2 separate regions of the Homo sapiens genome follow, and region 1 is linked to region 2. Evidence: fine-mapped expression QTL. Tissue or cell type: whole blood. Region 2 holds a variant in brackets; the other region holds the start of a gene. All regions are shown on one strand. Distances are between the middles of the regions.

Region 1 (2,762 bases), 180 kb after region 2:
CAAGATTTAAGTTTGTTACATTTAAATTTAAGTTTTATACTTTTTTTTCCAGCTCTGTATTGCTGTATACAACTACTCTCTTTAGGGATATCTTATCTGCTATGCCCTCAAGATATTGTAAATACTTCAGTAAGAGCAAATTTTGCCTCATGCAAAAAAGAATTTTTTAAATCAGTGTGCATAAGAATGCAGAATATAAAGATGGTCTTGTCCTACAGATGTTAAGGTAACAGAACAACTCATAAAAAGACAGTCCTCTAACTCCTTTAGCTGAGATATGGTTAGCTTTGCCCCCATATATATCATCCCCTGCTCCAATCTCCAAAAACTTCCTTCTATGAATGTGTCAATAAGACTGATGATATTGCTATTAAAACTCAGAACTTGACTGCTCATTTATAAATTGAAAATTCAAAACGACAAAGCCCAGTGCTCGCTGATTTCTACACATACAGGCATAATAAAAGAGAACTACGCTATTACAAAGAACTATGCATCTGGTCCCGCCCCCAAATACTAGAGTCCAGTCGTAGGGGTCATTCTTTCACTCAACAAACTTTTTATTATGCGCCTACTGTGTACTAGGCATTGCACAGACAGTTAACAAAACAGACCAAAAAATCCTTTCCCTCCTAATAACAGGAGCGTGCCCGTAAAGGCTGCCGAGGGACCACGTCGTGGCCGCGCCTCCGTCCCATAGTGGTACTCGTACAGACAGCCCAGCCGGCCCACGGGCCGCCGAGACTTGCAGCCCTGACACACGGCCTTGGCCTCTGGGTTCCTAACCCGGACCCTGGGGCAGGCTGGGAAGCCCTCCTACCCCCACTGTCTCGCGCCAGCCCGGCCAGGAGGCCACGAGGGCCAAGCGCATACCCAGGCGCGCCCCCGCCACCAGGCGCGCCCCCGCGCCACCATCCGCCCGTCCCGCGCAGGCGCCGGCGCCGCCGCCCGTCTGGCGCGCGCCTGGCACGCTCTCTTGCGGCTCTTGACTGGCGGCCTCGGCCCCACTTGCCCCAGTTACACGCGGTCCCAGCCCCACCAGCCGTCGCCTCTTACCGGCGCGCTGGCCCCTGCGCCCCAGCCTCCCGGCTCCCGGCGGCTGCCTCGCGGGGCGCCTCCTCCTCCTCGGCCTCCGCGAGCGCCGCGGAAGCCCCGGCCACGGCCACGGCCCCGGCGTCCGCCTCCGTCCCCGCCGCCGCCTCCGCCGCCGCCTCTGGCTACCGCCGCTGCGGCTCCGGGCCGCTCGCTGTGGCGATCTCCGCCAGGCCGGCCGCGGCCTGGCCGCCGCCCACGGCCTCCCCGAGCTCCTCGCTCCGCCTGCATCTGGCCGCCGCTGGCGGTGCTGAGCGCGCGGGAGCCGAGCTGCGGCGGAGACGCCCTGGCCCCACCGGAAGCGGGCCGCACGGAGGAGCCGCGAGCGAAAGGCGCCCGGTAGCAGCGAGGCGCGGGGTGCGGGGCTAGGGATCGAGGCCGGCCGCAGCGGAGCGGGGCGGGGCGGGGCGGCCGGCGTCCCGCAGGTGGGGCCGGAACCGGGACCGCGGGAAGGCCGGACCGCTGGGAGCTGGAAGTGGTGGGGGTCTGCAGCGGGGCGGGGGGATTCTCAAGGCATCAGAGATAGGTTGGGGGAGAGACCGTGCTAAGTGCAAGGACGAGTCATAAAATAAAATTTGTATGATGTGAACTCTCGGAAAAAAAAAGTTTAAACGTATGTATTTGCATAAGAAAAGGTCTAAACAAATACATACTAAAATGTTAGTGGTTAACTGCTGAGATTTGAAGTGAGTTAATTTTTTTTCCTCCGTTTAATCTAATTTTCAGCAACGAATGTGTATCATTTTAAAACTATACCGAAGTCAGGGTTCAGGAGGTGTGGATGTAAAGACAAGAGTTTGTGTCTGGTGAGAGGTGGACTGCAGCACGTGGGAGAGAGAACAGTGCGAAACTGGGAGATGGCTAGAAAGGGCGTCAAAGTCCTCAGCAGAATTTCTGTAGAAATGACTACTACAGCTGACATTTATTGAGCACATGAGTATTTCATTCTCATAACAGCTCTATGAGGTAGGGATGACTGTCATCCTTATTCTGCAGTGAGGTAACAGCCTTGGAAAGGTTAAAAAAAACTTGACTAAAGTGAATAACTAGGTAGTGGTGGAACTGGCATTCTAAGGCGGTCTCACTCCAGTCCCTTCTTTCAACCAAGGAGAAAACAGGAAGGGGAACAGTTGGTTACACAGATGCATGAAAGCAGTTTTTAACTTGGGACTGAAACCACCTGAAAATAATGAAAGCAAGGGCTAAAATGTCAGCCTAGCAGAATAAGTGTTTTCTTCCCCCTCAGTACTTTCTGGTTCTTTCCTATATCCATACATAGTTAATACTTTTCATTGCTTCTAATTGCCTACTCTGCATCAGGCACAGTGCTATGTCCTGAAATTAAAAACAAAAACAAAAAAAAAACCTTGCCCCTGCCCTCAAGTAGCTCACTGCCCACAAGGAAGATAATCTAGTCGTGTGAATAGATGATTACAGTACCGTGTTGCTGAGTGCAGTGAGAGATTCAAGATCAAGGTCCAAAGAAGAAAAGTTAAATTATATTTAAACGGGTTACCCAAGGCTTCATGAGAAATAGACCCCTGAGCTAAAGCCTAATGGTTGAGTAGGAGTTTGCCTGGTTGGTAAATGGGAGTAGGGGCGCCTTCCAGACAGGGGGAACTATTGAAGGATTGTCAACTCCAGAGAAACAGTCTTAAAAATAGTAACAC
Region 2 (2,762 bases):
TGGGAAGAAGGGCTGTGTGGGGGTGCTCTTGAGAACTGTAGAGTTAGTTACAGAGCACAGCAGAGATTAAAGTAGAAGACAGATGTCTTCTCCAAACAGGAGAGTGTCCTGGGAAGACAGAAGTGATGGAGGTAGTTTTCATTACCACACATCTAAGCCCCGTGGAAAGGGAAGCACCCTGCACAGTGGCGTCATCATTCATCTATTTCCGGGGTAAAGATGAGACATTATTTTATTTTTTTGAGATGGAGTTTTGCTTTTGTCGCCCAGGCTGGAGTGCAATGGCGTCATCTCAGCTCATTGCAACCTCCGCCTCTCAGGTTCAAGTGATTCTTCTGCCTCAGCCTCCCTAGTAGCTGGGATTACAGGCATGCACCACCACACCTGGCTAATTTTGTATTTTTTTTAGTAGTGATGGGGTTTCTCTATGTTGGTCAGGCTGGTCTCAAACTCCCGACCTCAGGTGATCTGCCCACCTCTGCCTCCCAAAGTGCTGGGATTACAGGCGTGAGCCACTGCACCTGGCCAAGATGAGACATTATTATGAATGAAACCAGTGTCTAAATTTCATGGAAGTTGAGCTTTGATCATCGTCTCTCAGAACAGAGAGCAAAGTCCCATGGACCGGGATTAAGCACTTGATTTATTTCAGCAAGCCAGTCGGAGGTTCTTTGCGGACAGCCAGCAGCAGGATCAGGTTGGAGGTGGGGAGGGGGAGTCCCGTCAGGCCAGATCTTCGTGAGAAAAAAGGCACTGCCCAGAGTAAGCCAGCTTGGCTGCAGCAACATCGCCAGTTTATTTTGACCAGATTTCAGAAAAAGAATCTGTGTCTCAGGGACAGGGGACAGTGAAATGCCCAGTCTGTGAGCATCTCCATAAAAGAGGTAACACTTCTTGACGAAAAACTCTCCATGTGCTTTCTCGGGCCAAGCACCGTCATGAGACAGCAATCCTAGCCCCTAGAGTACTGGCATGACCAGCGTGTCTTCAGGCTGCCCCTGGCTTTTGATTTTCCAGGTGTAAGACGGTCCTTTCTCTGTGAGTCTAATCAACCCATCAGGTGGAGAGACAGAGGGTGCCCTGCTCAGGGAGCCCGTGCCTAGATTGGCTCAAACCTGCAGAACAGGAGGAGCAGAAAAGTCCATTACCTTTGACCTTCCTGCTGCAGGAATCCCTGCCCTACCAGGTGTAAGGGGAATGTGGATGAAGAAGAGGGGGGACCTTTTTGCAGTTTATAGCACAGCCTGAAGGCCAGGCTAACACTCTTAAAATTAAATGAGGAAAAATTATTATATGGCATAGGCCATACTCATCAAGGCTTAAAGATCTTTTAACTTATATACACCTTTAATGGGCCTAAAAATACCTTTTAAAAGCCTAAATGTAACGACAGTCTTTCCATCTTTGTAGATATCAAACTGTCCAGAGGGTGCAGTGGACAGCAGCTAGCAGCATGAATACTGGCACCTCTGAAGAGTTCCCCTCTC[G/C]TGGCTTAGGGCTGCCACAATCTGACCGAATCATATGAATGATCTGAGCATCTTGCTAAAAACAGAACTGTGACTTTTGCCTAAATCCCCCTTATTTTTCTTCTCTAGTGTTACCTTTTCCACATGTACGTGGGAGTGAGAGCAGGAGGTGGCATTGGTGATGAAATTGAAGACCCTGCTGGTGATCCTTATGAAATGTATCGCATTGTCTTTGACATTACCTTTTTCTTCTTCGTCATTGTCATCTTGCTGGCCATCATTCAAGGTATGATTGCCAATTGTGTTGAGTATGAACAGGGTTTAATCTAGTTCTTTTTGCTTTCTTCCATCTATGACTTAATTGGTTTATGAAGAAGCGTGTGAATTCATTTACTTGTTAATTTAGCAAGAACTAATTTAGCATCTACTATACCTGAGGCTTTGGCTATATATAAAGCCAAATACACACCCAGGCACAGTTATAAGAAGCTTCATCCATACAGAGGAACCCCTTCCTTCTGTTCCTCTACTCTGAATTATTTACTCCTCACTTCTGCTTCTGAGATCTCTCCTGTGGCTAGTCTTGTCCTCTTCATTTTCTTCCCAGAGAGGGAGGTAGGGTAGGAGCAGAGGAGCTGGACAGTGCAGGGGAGGGGAGGGAAAGAATGATATTTTAGTCAACAGCTTGTCAAGATTGGAGAAAGATGATAAATTTAGCTTGAGTCATGCTGAGTGGAGGAACCTGTAAGACATGCAGGTGTTGAGGGCTAAGAAGTGAAGTAACTGAGGAGGAACCCTGATCCACCTCAGTGTCAGAGGTGCTAGGAGAAGAGGGAGAGCCTATCACACAGACTGAACACAAATAGCTAAGCAAAATAGGAGACCAACCAGGGAGAAGTAGAAAGGAAAGAGTTTCAGGGAGGAGCAAGTAGTTAACAGCACTGCATGGTGTAGAAAGGTAGAGTTAGGAGGAACAATGAGAAATTGTTAGCCAGGATGTAACACAAAGAAACACGAGTATTATTTTTCTAATTTTGCTTTGATAATTCACTTTTTTTTTTTAACAGAACAAAGTAGCTTCTTCCTTTATCATTCCTCTACCCCTGAACCACTACACAGATTGCTTTGTCTTTGTATTTAACATTCCAGGTCTTATTATTGATGCTTTCGGAGAGCTAAGAGACCAGCAGGAACAAGTACGAGAAGATATGGAGGTAATGTTACTCTAACTACTAATCCCAGCTCTATTTTAATATCCCCAGAAGCAAATAGATTTTTTAAACAATAGGTTTTACT

Evidence for each region. PIP is the estimated chance that this variant, and not a neighbour inherited with it, causes the effect. A credible set is the group of variants that fine-mapping cannot tell apart.
Region 1: it holds the start of AVEN, and the variant in region 2 is the best candidate, but not a certain one, in a credible set for the expression of AVEN in whole blood (TOPMed, PIP 0.52).

Annotation. Positions count from the first base shown.
Region 1 is chr15:34,037,724-34,040,485 of GRCh38, forward strand. AVEN (apoptosis and caspase activation inhibitor) reads right to left here and starts at 1,481. Exons shown (of 6, transcript NM_020371.3): 1 at 1,057-1,481. The coding sequence starts at 1,323. The region is part of intron 1 of CHRM5 (cholinergic receptor muscarinic 5); the gene reads left to right. RefSeq lists silencers at 454-513, 864-923, 1,014-1,223, 1,404-1,573.
Region 2 is chr15:33,857,980-33,860,741 of GRCh38, forward strand. It overlaps RYR3 (ryanodine receptor 3), which reads left to right. Exons shown (of 104, transcript NM_001036.6): 100 at 1,596-1,752; 101 at 2,616-2,680. It also overlaps a transcript of AVEN not described here. Among named protein-coding and RNA genes, the nearest start is that of CHRM5, 110 kb to the right of the region's middle. RefSeq lists an enhancer at 342-1,541. The variant G/C (reference allele first, on the strand shown) is at 1,488.